2 separate regions of the Homo sapiens genome follow, and region 2 is linked to region 1. Evidence: fine-mapped expression QTL. A gene starts in region 1. The other region holds a variant in brackets. All regions are shown on one strand. Distances are from middle to middle. Region 1 holds the start of SLC25A48 (solute carrier family 25 member 48). Region 2 overlaps SLC25A48 (solute carrier family 25 member 48).

Evidence for each region. PIP is the estimated chance that this variant, and not a neighbour inherited with it, causes the effect.
Region 2: its variant is fine-mapped to the expression of SLC25A48 in tibial nerve (GTEx, PIP above 0.99).

Annotation. Positions count from the first base shown.
Region 1 is chr5:135,831,014-135,839,720 of GRCh38, forward strand. It overlaps SLC25A48 (solute carrier family 25 member 48), which reads left to right and starts at 3,650. Exons shown (of 8, transcript NM_001349336.2): 1 at 3,650-3,880. The coding sequence starts at 3,835. RefSeq lists an enhancer at 2,615-3,116.
Region 2 is chr5:135,880,360-135,889,066 of GRCh38, forward strand. It overlaps SLC25A48 (solute carrier family 25 member 48), which reads left to right. Exons shown (of 8, transcript NM_001349336.2): 8 at 7,673-8,278. Among named protein-coding and RNA genes, the nearest start is that of IL9, 11 kb to the right of the region's middle. The variant G/T (reference allele first, on the strand shown) is at 3,524.

The sequences.
Region 1 (8,707 bases):
TCATGCAGAAGATGCTTTGGTATAGATCTGAAGGAGGTAGGAGTCGGCTATGAGGAGGGCAGGGAGAGGGAGCTGCAGGTGGAGGGAGTGATCAGTGCAAAAGCTCTGTGGGGGAAATGTGGCTGGTACCTTTGAGGGCCTGAAAGAAGCCGGGCTTCTGTGATGCTCCAGGAAAGGCCAGGGGGAGTCCTCACACCTGGGAATGATGTGACCACCTCTTCAGCTCTGTCTTGTATCCAGACACCCTCCTTGTCTGCCAGCCACCAGCAGGACCTTCAGACTTTTCCCCATGTCTCCTCATTTAAGGCCCAGCGGACTAAGCAGTGACTGACTGCCCATCAGGCCTGCGCCAGGCTCTGCAGGTCCAGTGCAGAATGAGGCAGTACCCTCTTCTCAGTGGGCTCACAGTCTGGATGGGAAGACAATCAACCACTGAGTCTGACAGCAGAGATACAGATATGCTCAGAATATTCAGGAAACACAGATGAGATCTAGAAGATACCATGTGGCATAGGGTGATGAGGAAGGCCTTCAAGAAAGGCCTGTCAGGAGGTGACAGCTGAACTGAGTCTTAAAGAAGAAGGGGGCAGGGATTAGCCAGGGGAGGAGGGAGAGGGTGTTCCCCACAAGGGAATAGCATGTGCGCAGTCACACACATGCACAGAATGTGAGACATTGAGGTGCAAAGTGGAAAAGCAGCCAGACCCAGTCCTACTGAGCTACACACAACACACTGGGGAATTGGAATTTATGCTCAAGATCACAGAAAGTCATCAAAGTTCACTAAACTGAGCAGATTCAAAGTTTCAGAAGCTCACTGGGGCAGTAGGACAGGGGCAGAGGGACCCAGGAACCCGTGTCCACTGTGATCCAGGCAGGGCAGTGGCACAGGGCTGGGCTGAGCCACATTCGGAGACAGCAATGAGGGCTGGGTGTCATTGAGGGGATGGACACTCAGGACTTTGCGGCTGGTGGGATAAGACCTTGGGAGAGAGAAATGGAGGATGGCATCCAAGGTTCTGTTTTGGGTGGCCACTGGGTGGAGGTGTGTTTCTCTAAGTTGAAGAGGCACTGGCGGAGGAAGAGAGAGTTCATCGAGGGATGCGCTAAGATGACCCGAGCCACCCAGGTGGAGGTGTTGAGTAGAGGGATGTCTGGACTCTGAAGCAAGGTGTGGGGGTTATACGCTGAGAGATGGGAGGTACGGGTGGGTGAGGGTCCAGATGGGGCCCTGAGGAATTCACACCTAAGCATGAGAAGGGGCCATGGCACCAGGGAAGAAGATGAGAAGAGCTGGAGAAGCAGGAGGAAAGCTGGGTGAGGGCAGGAATCTGGAAGCAGAGGGGAGCAGGCGGCATGGGCAGCGCCTTCACTGCAGCAGGTCAGGCATGGACAGCTGACCCAGGCCTTTGCTGCCCGAGTGTGGCAGGTGGACATGGGGAGGGGATTGTTGGCTTGCCTGAGAGAGTGGTTGGGGAGGTGGGAGCTGTGGGGCTGTGTAGACTAAAGGTGCAGCCAGGAGACTCCAAGTTTGGAGAGCCTTCCCTGATTGCTTCCTGTAGAACGATGGACTCCCTCTCCAGTGCTCTTACAGCCACCTCTGTGTAGCATCTCAGATGGATTGTCTCCTCTCAAACAGAGACTTTCCCCAAAGCAAGGCACTAGCACAGACTGATGCTCAGGAAATTGCTGTGGCCTGAAAGGGTAAATAAGAAATGGGGAGTGGGCCACTAGTTAACAAATGCTATCAGCATAGCCCATCTGCATGTCCTGCTACTGAGGAAAGTGCTCTGAGAGGTCATCATTGGGGAAGGAACTGAGGGAGAAAGAAAATGGGGTTGCTTTCTGGCCCTAGTCATGCAGGGAGTGGATCTCTGTGGAGTTTCTTTCTCTCTGTAATGGCCAGTAGCTGCCCTGCCCTCTCCCGAGTGTAGAATGCAAATGTGAATGGCAGCACACTGCAAATGGTGCTCTGAAGTGCGAAGGCCAGGAAGAAGGGATGGCCTGGATCCTGGCCACAGAGCCAGCATTCTGCCTGGGCTCATAGCCCTGTGGTCTGGGATTCTCCAGGCCTGGCCATGGTTGCTGGTAAACCTAGGGTCCTCCCCTCACTTCCCTGGGTGATGCGCCCCATGGGCAGGTTTGTGGCATGCATATGGGAATGGAGCACAGTAATTCATTTTGGAAAGCAACCCACTCCTGCTCTGCTCCAGCTCGTTAGTAGTTCAAGCAGCAGCTTTCTGGGCCTGGGAGGCCATCCTGGGCTGCCAGGGACACTGCCTGCCAACGTAAGACCTCCTCAATTGGTGCTGACACAGGACTGAGGGGATGACAAACTGCCTGGCACCCCTTAGGTGGTCTTCCAGAGGAGTGGGTTTTGAGAATTGTCAGGCTTTCCACTTGTGGATGCATTCCAATGGTGAACTCAGTAAAAGGCCACTCTTCAGAGACCTGCATTTCTCATAGCAGCCCTAGGCATATATCCCGGGCATGACAGGGCACAGCTTGGGGTTGATGCTGATGGCAACTCTGAAGCCTCAAGACTGAGTGGGTCACCATAAGCAGCAGGAAGTTGAGGTGCCGGGATGGGGTGTGATGCTTCCACTCCTCCCTGGAACTTTGCAATACTTCCCTAGCCAGGCCGGCGACTCCATCCCGGGCTGTCCTCTCCCGATACAGGTCCACTCTCTGTGTGCCGGGGCAGGGGAGGGAGTGATGCTGCAGGAAGGTCCCTTCACCTCCAAGTCCCCACTCCTCAGTGGACAGGCCTTTGTAGGATCAAGCTTCGGTGGTCAGGCTCTGTCTTGCTTTGGAAGAAGGAGGTCTGGCTGGCTGTCGCTTCATATTAACCTGGATGACGTGACATGAATATGCCCAGTGGGACAAGAGCAGGCCCAGCAGAGGCCCCTTCCTCCTGACCATACCCTTCACCATTCTTGTCAACCTTGGGGTGTCTTGGCTGAGACCCACAGCTGAGTCCCTGCTGGAAACTAGCAGAACGCTGGGGGGCTTCGAGTCTTCTTAGGAAGGGAGGAAAGACACTCTCATTGTAATCAAAAGCCTCTCCGCACAGCAGGCCACTTCTCCAGTGAGCACGGACCCCTGGCCTGGGGCCTGGCTGAATGTAGGGTCTGCCTACAGAGAGGGAGTTTGAGGTACAGAGCACCACCTCTGCCTTCTGTTGGCCCAGGGCGGACAGTGTAGGGTGAGCCAGGGCCAGGCAGGGAGCTGGGCCCCTAGAGAGCTGTAGCTGAAAGTTAGACATGACCCTGAACCACCAGGTGCCTGCTCTAGGCACGGGGTACTGAGTGGGACATGGCTGAGATGAACAAAAAGGCATCACTGCCCAGAGTTGGGATGGGAGAGAGTCCACAGCTGATTGGAATCAGCATTGTCAGCACAGCACAGTACAGGGAGATACGCGCATTGCCGTCTCTGGATGGGCGGCTGGCACTTTCAGTTCAAAGGCGCTGAGGCTCTGAAGTTGGCAAGGAAGAGGATAACCCGGAGAAGGGAGGACTAAGAGAATTTCACTTGATGACCCTTGCCTCTTTGTGTCTGGGATGAGCCGCGCGGAGCGCACCCTTATCCACCCAGAGTGCTGTGCCTTTAAGGTCCACTGGGGGCGTGATGTCAGCCGCCCTCCGGCACTTGGAGAGGTGAGCGCGGCAGCCCGCGCAGCCGGTGACTGGGGGACTGGGTTTGGAGTAGGACCTGCGGCGTGCTCGAGACTCCGACTTCGGTCTTGCGGCGCGCTCGCGCCCGCGGGCCATGCCCCACTGACTCTAAGTGGGCACTGCCCCGGCTCCGGGAGGGCGAGACCGAGCGCCGGCCATGGGAAGCTTCCAGCTGGAAGACTTTGCGGCGGGCTGGATCGGAGGTGAGTGTGCTTACCGGGGACCCCCGGTCAGAGAGAGCGAGCCTGGCGGAGTTTGCCTCTATGCTCTGAGGAAACTTTGCCTCTGTGCGCTGCCATCCCGCTCCCCGTTGTGCGCGCAGCCTGCTTTGGGGAGTGCCCGGCCCCGAGATCCCCCTGGTGGTCTTGCAGTTGCCAGGGCTAAATTCTGAGAGCTTCACAGCGTTTCGGGCTGAGCTTCTGATTTGCTCATTAAGTTAGGATCCGTGGGACTTGATGAGGTAATGATTAAACAGCTCGTCAAAGCCCACAGCCAATGGAGGCTCCTGGCGGCGCACACACCCTTCAGTGACCTGGTGCACACCTGAATTGCGGACGTGGCTCGCGGGAACTTATGTATGAGGGTAGCGCTTGGCTGCTGATCCCGGGGCGCAGGGTGGTGGGAGCCAGGCTTCGAGATTAGGCCGGCCCAACGGGGCGTCCCGACTGGAGGGAGCAGAGCTCTCACAGCAGGGAGCGGAGCGCCGGCTGCAGGTGCCCATTGCCAGGCTGCGAGGAGCACTTATTGCCTTCAGCCGCCGCCAACCGTCAGCCATCGCCTACCTCCAAGGCCCCTTCTCCGGGCACTGTTGGGTCTGCTGATCCCTTCGCCACAGCTCCCGAAGCCACTCTTTTACTGGGCCTGGGATGGGTTGCCTGGGCGAGAGTTGCATTCATTTCCTTGCTTCTCCATTTTTCTTTCCAATTGGTCTATCCCTCTTTTCTCAGCTATTAGGAAAGGGGGAAGTTTGAGGGACTTTGCTAATTGTAAAAAAAAAAAAAAAAAAAAAAAAAAGTCTTTCTTTGGACCCATCTAAAAGGGTTATCCTAAAAGGGATGTTGGCAAATGTAGCCCCTCACCAAAGGGGTGAAAAAATAAGATGAAAAGAACAACAAACCAGATTGGATCCCAACTCCTCCCCTCCTACCTAGCAGGAGACCACCTCTCTCCCGAGACCGGTGGCTGCAGGGCCCTGCTTCACACCTTCCTGAGCAGAGGTGGCTCCTTTCACCTTGAGTAAGTCTGTTGGCACAGATGCCCTTGGGTGGGGCTGAGACCCGCCTCTCCTAACTTTCCCAGTTAGGGGGCTGCAGCCTGAGGCCCGCTGGGCATATCCAGGTCCTTTTTGACTGGACAATTATTCCACCATTCAGCGGGGCAGGCAGAGAGAGGAGACACTTCCGTGGGCTGCCCCTTAAATAAGCAGACCACCTTCGGTAGGGATGCAAATGGCTTGGTTTGAAAAATGCCCTGGAAGGTAGGGCTGAGTCAGAGTAGTTCCAAGACTCTGATACCCCTCCCCATCCCCAAACGTGATAACATGTGAACCCTCCCCGACTCACAGCAAGTAGGGGATTTTTGTGCTTTATTCTGGTCCTTACTTTGGTGATGTTATTGAAAGTAATGGCAAAAATCGCAATTACTTTTGCACCAAACTAATAACATGGCTTTTTTTTTTTTTGGCTTCCATGAAATGATGGTAAGTGTTTACTACACTTGAATACTTACTAGGTGCCAGGTATAGTTTAAGTGCTATATGTATTCTTTTAAAACAATTTTATCAAGGTTTATTTTATGTATTATAAAATTCACCCATTTCAAATGTACAATTCAATGTCTTTTAGTAATTTTACAAAGAGGTGCAACCATCACCATAAATTTGTTTTAGAACATTTTCATCCCCCAGTAAGATCCCTCATTTGAAGTTGAATGCTGTTCCCTCTCCTTAATCTCCTTTCTGTAAATTTGCCTTTCCTGTATATGTTATGTCAATTGAATCTTGCAATATGTGATCTCTTGTGTCAGTTTATGTATAGTTCTTTAATTATTATAACAACCCCAAAGAGGTAGGTACCGTTGCATCCTTATTTTACAGATGAGGAAACTGAGATACAGAGAAATTCACTGACTTGCCTAAGACCATGCATCTAGCATTGGCACCAGGATTCCAACCCAGGCTGCCTGGCACCAGAATCTGCCATCTTAATTTCATCTTAACTCTTTCTGAACAACCTTGCATAACAAAATTTTGCCCTTTTTTTGATATTATCCCCCCCCCCACCCCCCCCCCCCACACACACACACATTTTGTTTGAGATTTTACTGGTTTGTGAAGTGCCAAGGTCTGGAAATCACTGACCTTATAATCCCATTTTTTTAAATCTCAAATCCCCTGCTTTCAGATGGGTGGGCTAATAAGTGGCAGGGAGATGTTGGCCCAAGGCTGGATCTAAGCCTGCCCTGAGCTGAAGGATGTGTGCACTCACTATGGGGGAAGCCATGGAGCCTGAGGACCAGCGCACCTCCCCCCACTACTGGGAAGGGTTAATTACTGCCATCACCTCTCTGCCTCTGCCCAGTTTAGTAGGTAGGAGGGGATAAGAGGGGACAGGTGGTTCTGGACCCAGGGAATCATTGTTCTGGGATTAGCTGGTTTCTTTGTCCCTATAAATATCTAATATTCCAGGAGCCCTTAGCTACCTGGTTAAATCACCTCTACTAACACAGATATTTCCTTCCTCCTCAGTGTTCTCGGGAATTTGTCTTTGAAGAACAGTTTCCCTTTCAATTTCAGTCACTAACTGCTGCAACAAGGCTGATACGGTTTGGCTGTTTCCCCACCCAAATCTCATCTTGAATTGTAGCTCCCATAATTCCACATGTCATGGGAGGGACCCCTGTGGGAGGTAATTGAATCATGGGTACAGGCTTTCCCATGCTGTTCTCATGGTAGTGAATAAGTCTCATGAGATCCAATGGCTTTATAAAGGGGAGTTCCCTACACAAGCTCTCTTTTTCCCTGGCACCATGTAAGATGTGACTTTGCTCCTCTTTAACATTCTACCATTATTGTGTGGCCTCCCCAGCCATGTAGAACAGTGAGTCAATTAAATCTCTTTCATTTGTAAATTACCCAGTCTCAGTAATGTCTTTATTAGCAGAATAAGAATGGACTAATACAGTAAGTTGGTACCAGTAGAGTGGGATGTTACAGTAAAGATACCTGAAAATGTGGAAGCAACTTTGGAACTGGGTAACAGGCAGATGTTGGAACAGTTTGAAGGGCTCAGAAGAAGACAGAAAAATGTGGAAAAGTTTGGAGCTTCCTAGAGACTTGTTGAATGGTTTTGACCAAAATGCTGGTAGTGATATGGACAATGAAGTCCTGGTTGTGATGGTCTCAGATGGAGATGAGGAACTTGTTGGGAACTGGAATAAAGGTGACTCTTGCTATGTTTTAGCAAAGAGACTGGTGACATTTTGCCCCTGCCTTAGAGATCTGTGGAACTTTGAACTTGAGAGAGATGTTTTAGGGTATCTGGTGGAAGAAATTACTAAGCAGCAAAGCATTCAAGATGTGATTTTGGTGCTGCTAAAAGCATTCAGTTTTATGTATTCACAAAGATATGGTTTGGAATTGGAACTTATGTTTAAAAGCGAAGCAGATCATAAAAGCTTGGAAAATTTGCAGCCTAACAATGCAATAGAAAATAAAAACCCATTATCTGGGGAGAAATTCAAGCCTGCTGCAGAAATTTGCATAAGTAACAAGGAGATAAATGTTTATCACCAAGACAGTGGGGTAAATATCTGCAGGGCATGTCAGAGACCTTGGTGACAGCCCCTCCCATCACAGACTCAGAGGCCTAGGAGGAAAAAATGGTTTCCTGGGCTGGGCCCAGGGACCTCTGCTCTGTGCAGCCTAGGGACTTGGTGCTCTGTGTCCTAGCCACTTCAGCCATGGCTGAAAGGGGCCAAGGTACAGCTTGGGCTGTGGCTTCAGAGGGTGCAAGCCCCAAGCCTTGGCAGCTTACACATGGTGTTGAGCCTGTGGGTGGATAGAAGTCAAGAATTGAGCTTTGGGAACTGCCATCTAGATTTCAGAGGATGTATGAAAATGCCTGGATGTCCAGGCAGAAGTTTGCTGCAGTTGGCTGCAGGGGTGGGGCCCTCATGGAGAACCTCTGCTAGGGCAGTGTGGATGGGAAATGTAGGGTGGGAGTCCCACACAGAGTCCCCACTGGGGCAATGCCTAGTAGAGCTGTGAGAAGAGAGCCACCATCCTCCAGACCACAGAATGGTAGATCCACTTACAGCTTGCACCATGCACCTGGAAAAGCCACAGACACTCATTGCCAGCCTCATGGGTATTATAATTTTTTATAAAATTATTTTTTAAAAAAGAAACCCCATTTCCTTTCTCCCTCAGTTTCTTCCCTGATGGTGACCTCTCAGAGCACTTTCCTTTGCAGTGGGGCATGCAGATGAGCTATGTTGATAGCATTTGCTAACTCCTGGGAGACACTCATGCCAGCAGCTGGGAGGAAGGCTGTACTCTGCAAAATCACAGGATGGAGCTGCCCAAGACCATGAGAACCCACCTCTTGCATTAGTGTGACCTGGATATGAAACATGGAACAAAGGAGATCATTTCAGAGCTTTAAGATTTGGTTGCCCCACTGGATTTCAGACTTGCATGGAGCCTGTAGCCCCTTTGTTTTGGCCAATTTTTCCCTTTTGGAACAGGTGTATTTACCCAATGCTCGTACCCCCATTGTTTCTAGGAAGTAACTAACTTGCTTTTGATTTTACAGGCTTATAAGTGGAAGGGACTTGCCTTGTCTCAGATGAGACTTTGGACTGTGGACTTTTGAGTTAATGCTGAAATGAGTTAAGACTTTGGGGCGCCGTTGGGAAGGCATGATTTGTTTTGAAATGTGAGGACATGAGATTTGGGAGGGGCCAGGAGTGGAATGATATAGTTTGGCTGTGTCCTCACCCAAATCTCGTCTTGAATTATAGCTCCCATA
Region 2 (8,707 bases), 49 kb after region 1:
CCCTTCCAGCAGCTTCAACAGCCCTTTCAGAGAAGTACTTTTACCTTCACTGTGCAGATGCAAGTGACCCAGGCTCACAAGTGAGGACTGCAACCAGGGTACCTGCAGGGGGCACCGTCTCCCCACCTCCCTACTGAACTGCACAGCCTGACTCTGAGAGCCACCCACAGGCTGCCAGAGCCCTAGAGGACAGGTCTCTGCCACCATTCTTTGCCTCCCATACCCTCTTTTTCTTTCTCATTGCAGAAAGATCACTGTAGCCTGAGGACTCTTCTAAAGACAGCAGTCTGACTCCTGTGCTCACATGCCCTCCTTGGCTCCCCATTGCCCTCTAGATAAAGCCTTCACCCTGCTTCCGCCAGCCTCACTCCTCACCACTGTTCTGAATGTCCCGCCGTCTCTCTCACCCCTAGGTCTTTGCTCAGGCTGTCCCCTCTGCCTGACATCCTCTTCTCGCTCCTTTCCTACTTGTCCTTGGCTTCACCAGCTCTTTGCCATCCAGGCTGTAGAAGTCTCCTCCTCCAGGATGCCGGCTTGCTTTCTCAGCTAGGGTGAGTCGCGCCTTCTGCAGACCATCCCCCACCCCCACCCACACTGCATCCTAAATGCCAGAGGACACCCTCACTCCCCAGGTGGGGCTGCTGCGCTGTCCCTACCTTTGCACTAATGGTGCCTGGCACAGAGCCCAGCACACAAAGGGCCACTCAGCAGTGTCATCGGATGGGTGGATGACCAACCCCCATATGCCCTCAGGCCTCCTCTTCCTCCCTGTGTTTTTTCTTCCTCATTGTCTGGCCCCATACCGGCTACCTGCAAAGCTCAGAAGACAAAGTAAGTGTGGACTGAACTTTCTAGTCAACCAAGAAGCCATTTGACATCAGTCTTGGTTAGCACAAATTCTCCTGGGAAGGATGATCTTTGTCTATAAAACCTCACTGCTGCCTCCCCCGTGAGCTGGCAGGGGCATTCTCGGGACGGCAGAGCCCTGCCAGGGTGCACGGGTGGTGCCAGAACCTGGACAAAGGGAGGGGGCCTGACCAATCAGGCAGACTGTAGTCAGCCCAGGACAAGCCCCAGAAGCTGGCTTCAAATAAAATGCTCTCCACTTTTTGCTAAAGTGGCAACATTCACAGCTTCTCTGGCTATTTGCCCTTTCTTATAAAAGGAAAAGGGTAGCAACACAGTTTACATAATTAAACATCTTGAGTGAAGAATTACTGCATTTGGGTGGCATCCAGGATAGGGAAGGAATTCATCTTATTCTTAAAGCTGTGCTCAGATATTGGCCATTTCCCCCTTTTAACAGAGAAAAGTAATTTCTTAAAAATCCTATAACAAAAGCCAGGCATTTTTATTGTAGACAAAAATAGAAAATTTAAATAAACAGAAAGAACAAAATAATAAGACCTGTCATCACAAGACCTTGTTGTTATTCTTCCAAGTATGTCTTATGTGTATTTTCAAATTGGGATCCTATTCTACACAGTGTTTTACAGCCCTCTTTTCCCATTTAGTAGTTTGGGACCATTTTCCCATGTCATGAAATCTTCAGCTACAAGATGGTTTTAATGCCAAGACCTCCCAGATCCCAGAGTGGCTGGATGCCTGCCCAACCTGTCGTACCTGCCACTGTGACCACCCTGGTGATTAACTGCTTCAGGACAAAGGAGGAAATTTCTAGCTACCCAATCACGATTGTCCTGCATTTAGCCTTTCACAAGCAGTGACCAACCCAATTGGAAGCTTTTCTTTCTGGAAGCGCTCTTTCTTGCAAGGGGCATAGATGTCTGTCTCCCTTAGGAGGGAGGACTGCTAAGGCAGGGAGGAGGCTATTGCCTCCTGGTGGGAGAGGGAGGTTCCCAGCCACTGGTCTGCAGATTCATCTTAAACAAGTCTTGCCCATGGCATTCAACTTCCTGCTCTAACCCCCAAATACCAAGGCCTTTTAACAAGACTGGATTTTAATTTACCAAGTAGCTCTGAGATTTGGGGAAGCCCATGCTCAGGCAGCAGTCACACCTACTCTTTGAATGCCTCCCTCATTGTCTAGACCCAGGACAGAGTGAGATGATGTATATTAGAGATCTAGGGTGCCAAGCTGTCCCTAAGAAGTGGCGGGATGGGGACCATCTCGAGAGTTCCTGAGTACAGATGACAGGGATGACTTGAGAATTGTTTCTAAGAGCCTGCAGGGGATAGATCACCCAGCTCCCAGCAGTTGCCAGGTGCCTTCCAACAACCAGGCATGGAGATATCCCCCAGCTTTTCCAAGTTCCATGCGGGAAGATCAGTGACCTTTGGTGGTAGAAGTGGCATCCCGACCACTTACCAGTGGCTGGCTCTCAGACTTGTCTGTGGCTCATGAATCCAACTCTGCCATCCCTACCTGTCCAAGACCAGCCCCCAGAGCTCCCTGGAATAGTGCTGGTCTGCCCTCGGTCCTGACATGCATGCTGCAGGTCTCACTAGCCTACTTTCGGTTTCAGGAAAACTGATTTTCAAGGAAAGAAGACATAGTGCTCTTATGATACCTTTGCTGAACATTTTCAAATAGCCCCGGCAACCCTGAGAGCCTCTGCCAGTCTGTACTTTGCCTCTTACTGCTTCACAAACCCAGTCTCCAAATGGGTTGTTTGACCCCAAGATCCAAGATTTCAAGACTCCCGTTAGAAGATGTTCTTGTCTTTCCTCCTTTTTCCCAGGGTCTCATCCCATTAACAGGTCAATGCTAAAAGTGTCTGCAGAACCCATGATGTGAATTTACTGAAGAGAAAGACTCTCCACCAGGTGGGCTTTCAGCCAGGCAGGCTGTCCTCAGAACCTCTTCCTTCCTTCACAATTACAAGCATTCTCATCCCCACCCCGGCTGGGGCAGCGGAGCTTCTGCCTTGGAGGGATTCAACTGACCATTGGTCAACTGATCACCAACTATTCCAGCTTTGGACCTGCACCTGGTAACAAACAAACGAACAGAACAAAACAAAACTGGAGTAAAATAGACCCTCCCCCCATGGCCATTGTAAACTCACTGTGAATTCATGGAAGAGCTGGAGTTGGCTCTAAGTTTCAAAATAAAAGCATTAAAAACCTCTTCACATTGTTTCTCTGTCAGATGCCTCTGCCTAGCTTCCAAGAGGCACCTGGCCACTGTCATTCCTCTCTCTCTGTTCAGGCCTCTGTGGGTGTTGCAGGCCCAGAGGGAAAACCCCTCCACACAGGTGAGGAGAGAAACTGAGCCGGGGCAGCCTGGCTTCTTTTTTCCCAGATGCCTAAGGTCGGCAGCAGAGGGCGTAGTGGTTGAACAGGGTGATGAGGGACAGAAACCTTCTAGGGGTTCTCCCACCCTGAGCAGTGGCACACGTTGGTGACTTGCTTCAGAGAGTTTGGCCCTGGGCTTGGTTGGGGTGGGCACTCTCTGGGCCTTATTTTTACATGGAGAACAAAACAAAACAAAACACTTGATCCACAGTCTGGCTTCCAGAGTGACTTCATTGTTCTAAATTTTATTCCTTACTAGAGCCGC[G/T]TGGGGAGGCCATTGCTATTTTGCTGTTATGTGGCTTGTGTCCCTGCAGCCTCTTCCAATTCTGTGCCCACAACAAGCATTCCTAGTCAATCATAGAGCCCTTTCTTGATGAGCTGAGTGGCGCCTCAGAGTCTTTCTCAGCACAGTGCCGTGGCAGCCACCACCAGCCGTGCAGAACTGTCATACAAAATGAATCTATTTGCCATCCCTGGCTTAAATCCCAGTGAAGGAAATGTCCTCAAATTTGTTCTTTTTTCTTTCTCTTGAAAAGGTCTTCCTTGGTTTCTCCACTACGCTGTTCCCCAACCACCCCCTGCCTTTGAGTGATTTGGGCCATGTCTCTGAAAAATCTCTGTCTTAATAGACCGAAGACCAAAGCAATTCTATGGTGCAAAAGAGTTGAAAGTGTTCCGTCTCTTCGGTGTGAAACCTGTTACTGGAGCGGAGGGTTCCATGCTTGAAATAAAACCCTCAGCATGCCCTCCTCAATATTTCTCCTTCACAGCCCCTGGGACTGCAGGGTCCCCTGGGTATCTCTGCAAGTTACTGTTCAAGCTGCCCACCCTCCAGCAGTGGGACATTCATTCATTTGTTCAGTCATCAAACATTTGCTGAGCAGATGCTGACCTAGGTGGTGGGGACAGCCATGAGGGACTCCAGTGGCATGTCATTCTGGTGCATTGGAGAGGCTCTATTGATGGGAGAGACCAGCCTGCCTGTCTGCCCCAGTATCACTGGGTCTGGGTGGGCACGGAGGATGCGAGTGAAGAGATGCTTCTGGCACCTGGTTCATCCCTGGGTAGACCTGAAGTCTCTGCTCTAACACATCCTAGAATGTGTTTCTTAAGTCTGCCTCAACTGGACCATTTCCCGGTGCGAGGCATGCTTGCACAGTTTGTTTAGAAGTGGTGCTGTGTCCACAAGGCCAACTGGGGTCTTCTACTGGGTGCTCCTGATGAGGCTGAGATGCAACAACCACCTTCTTCAGGTGTCTGAGCTTTTCCTAGTTTCTATTAATCATCATGGCACCTCTTGATGGTAGAAGGAGGCATGCAGAGAGAAGCATTGCTGATCCAGTTCACAGATGAAGGAACTGAGGCTCCAACATACCTGAGCCCCAGCTCAGGACTTTACCACCAATCCCATTTGATAATCTTCCTGAGGCTACACTTCCCTGCTGTCCAGCCCAGGGTACATCGCCAGCAGCCATGATGATGGCTATTTTACGGTGTAAAAAAGACAAAGTTGTTGGGACACATAAGTATGGCGTCTGAAACTGCTATTGAAGGCCTCCCATCAACCACATCAGAACTGCCCTTCTGGACCCACCTCCCATTGCTCTGGTCCAGGTTCCCTGTGCTCTCATCATTTCCCCCATCCCATCCAGTGCCAGGCATACAATGGGCATTTAAATGTTGCTGAAAGGGTTCCCAAGTGATCCCACAAGCCTGCTGGGCCAGCTGCTGTGTGCCCAACACCCTCCAGGCTTCCCTGCCTCTATGCTTTTCTTTAACCTACAGGACACTCTTACCCCCAGCATCACCAGGAACAGGAATGCTCCCTGTTTTCGACCCAGCTCAGATGCTTTAAGCCCTTAGATGTTAGGGCTTCCTTGCTTCTCTCTCTCTCTCCCCTCCAGCAGCATCCATGGTCCTTCCACCAACGTGACCCCTCTGGCACTGTGTCCCTCCCTGTGCTACAGTCATGTCTGTGCACCCTCTCTTTCTCACTGGCCTGTGCCCCCCTTCAGAGCCAGGGCTGAGTCTTCCCAATCCTTAGATTCAGCATAGCAGCAAGAATGAACAGGGTTTAGAATAAAGGAAGCATAAATTAATGGGCAAAAATGCAAGCATGACCATGTTAATTGAGAATTGTTTGTAATAATGAAAATTCAGAAAGTTTCTAAATGCCTATCAATAGAAGAGGGGGTTGAACAAACAGCCACTAAAAAGAATGAGATAGATCTCACATATATTGTCATGGAAATATGTCAGCAACATTGTAAGTGCAGAAATGGAGGGGCAGAATAACATATATGATGTTATTCATTTTCATTTTAAAATATATATCGTATATGGGTAATTATATGGGCATTGAAAAACCCTTGAAGGATACACACCAAATTTAATAGTGGCTATTTCTGGGATGTGGGATTGGGAGAAGGCTTTCAGTTCCGAATTTGATGTTGGTGATTTCTTTGTACATCACTATAATGATGGTGATTTGATGATGGTGATTATTGTAATGTTTTAATTTTTTTACAGCACACATATATTGTTTTTATAATTTCTTAAAATAAAAGCACACCTTATTGCAGAGCTAGGGCTCCCTGCTGGATACTTGTTTTCCAGGCTGCGGGCTGGCTCTTCCTCGCTGCCCAGCCTCAGCCCAGCTCTGAGTAACAGCCCCTGCCACACCCCCTCCCCCCGCCCTCCTCCATGCTGGGCAGACAATGCCTCAGCACATCTTCTGCACCTTCACTCCCACTCAGGAGCACCTGGGCTGCAATGAATGAAACTCGGCTTTATTGAAGAAACTCAGCTCCAGCCCAAACAAATCTCATGAGGTAGCCAGATCTGGGAGGGGTCAGCCAGCAATGGATCTGCTTCCTCTTAGATTTTTCTGGAGAGGGCAATCTTGTGGAATAGTTGGGCCAACAGCTTGTGAGTCTTCCTCCATCAACACATTATGGTTCTATTTAACCAAATATATATATATATATATATATATATATATATATATATATATATATATAAAATATATATATGTGTGTGTGTGTGTGTGTGTGTGTGAGAGAGAGAGAGAGAGAGAGAGAGAGAGTGTGTGTGTGTGTGTGTAGTCTGACTGTGGCCAGTGCTGTTACAGGCATTGGGTGACAATGGCAGGGACCCTGCCCTCAGGGAGCTTAGTATCAGGCATTAATTTCTGTTGTCATGGTCAGGAAAGTCTTTAAACAAATGGAATCCTATTTTTAAGAAGGATGAAAACAAAACAGAATTCCAAGCCAAGCACCAGTTTTGGTGTCTGTGCCTTGGAGTTGGGGGGCTTCAGGGTTGGCCAATTTGCCTTACCAGGAAAGATGAAAAGAAGAACAAAAATCATTACCATACAGCAGCAGTCCTCAACAGCAGCCCCTTTCACTCCTGAAAATTATTAAGGACCTCGAAGAACAACTGCTTATATATTTACCAACAATTACTGGAAATTCAAACAGAATTTCAAAAATATTTATCCATTTAGGTATAATAATAAACCCATGACATTTTAACATAAATAACATTCTATGAAAATAACGATTCTTTCTAAACCAATATAATTAACGAGAAGACTTGCGTTTTCCGTTTTTGCGGCGAAGTCTGGCTTAAACAGAGGGCAATTGTGTTCCTCTGTCTGCTTTTGCTTTTAGTCTATGGGTTATCACTTGCATTATAGCCTTTGGGAAACTCCACCGTATGCTTGTGAGAACATAAGATTGAAAAGAGCAGATAACATCTTAGTGTTCTATGAAAGTGGTTTTGACCTCGTGGGTCCTCTTTGAGAACTGCTGCCCTACAGGGGAAAAAATACATATGTGTGTGTGTGTGTGTGTACATATACACACACACACATATATATGTGTGTATATACATATCCCTCGCCCAAAGGCTGATACCCTGCAGAACCACCACTTGGTGGCAGTAGAGGTCAACTAAACCCTCCGCAGGAATCCGCGTCTGGGAGTGCACGATCTTGGCCCTGTGGTGAGAACACCTGGGCCCCGTGACACTTCTTTTCCTGTTTCCTGGGTCTCACCATCTCCCTTGGCGTTGCCCTTTTCCTTCTCTGTGGTGGCAAGAACTTCACATTAGGGAGGCCTTCCCCTTGGGTTCCAGTTTCACGCAGGCCATCAGCCACCTGTGCTCTTGCAGGCAGCAGTGCCCCCTGTGCTCTTGCAGGCAGCAGTGCCCCCTGAGCCATCTGTAAAATGGCCACACTGGTCTCCCTTACCTACTTTGCACAGCTTCCACAAGAATCAAGTGCAAAAGTGTTTTTGTAAACTGTAAAGTGCAAAACATAGGGGTTAGAGGAAGGGGTGGCCTGGTGTGATTTTTCTGGTTTCTGTTCTTTGCCTGCCTTCTTCTCTGAGTCTGGGTTGTTTGCTGTTTCCAGGAGGTGAACACAGGATGACTACAGTGTTCCCTGGGCCTCATCTCTGCATGTGAAGCCCTGAGAGCTGCAGATGTTTGGCCTTTGGACCTCCAAGTGGACATCAATTAGCAAGCGTGGGCTAGGATGGTGCAGACACTGACGTGGCCCTTCTGATGCCTGGGATGCCTCATGAGTCACTGATTCAAGCCCTCCAAGGTTCTGATCCCCAATGCCCACTCTGCTAGGCTGGCATCAAAGAGCTTTCCAAGAAATGTTTGGTCCAGCTGAGAAGTCCTGACCATGAGCACCAGGGAGCCAGAAACCACCCAGAGAAACGTTGCTTCACTCCTCTGTCTGAGGATGGGGAGGGGCCAGTGAGCTCTGGGCTCAGCCACTCCCTCCAGTCTCAAGTAACACGTCCCCGTGCCTCCAGTCTCCTCTCAGCACCGACCAGGTTTTTCCCCGCTCCTGCACCCGTGGATCCTGAGGACAGCGGTAGCGCCTTCCTCACCGCACGCTGAGTCCAGTGCGTGCTCCTCACTGTGCACTTATTAGTGTCTGTTGAGTGATTAAATCACATCCTCAGGTCTGCAGCAAATAAATGAAAGTTTCTTTATTTTTTATTAACTAAATTGAGATTTTTTTCAAGCTGATGACAGAAAAAAATAATTTTGCCATTTCAGGGTAAAACTTCGAAATTCCAAGTTAAATGCCCAGTTCAAGATTTTTTCCTTCTCCACCTTCCCCTGGGGTTGACTTTAGATCTGGGAGGTTTGGGATTTAGGGAGAGGCTTCAGGGTCCTGGGAGGTGCTCTGTCCTACCCTGGTGTTCTTCCTGGCTAGTCCTGGGCATGGCTTTCCCTCCAGGGTGGCTTCTGTATAAGCATCTTCAGTCCCATTTGGTCCCTGTCCCGTGGTCCGAGCCTGACATATGTGCCCATCCCAAGGCCTCTCCAGCCTTACCATCCTCCAAGACACATCAGTGCCCCTCTCTGCCCTGTGTGAAAATCTTTGGTTTCTCCGTTGAAACTATTCAGGGGGCTGCATCAAGCCCAG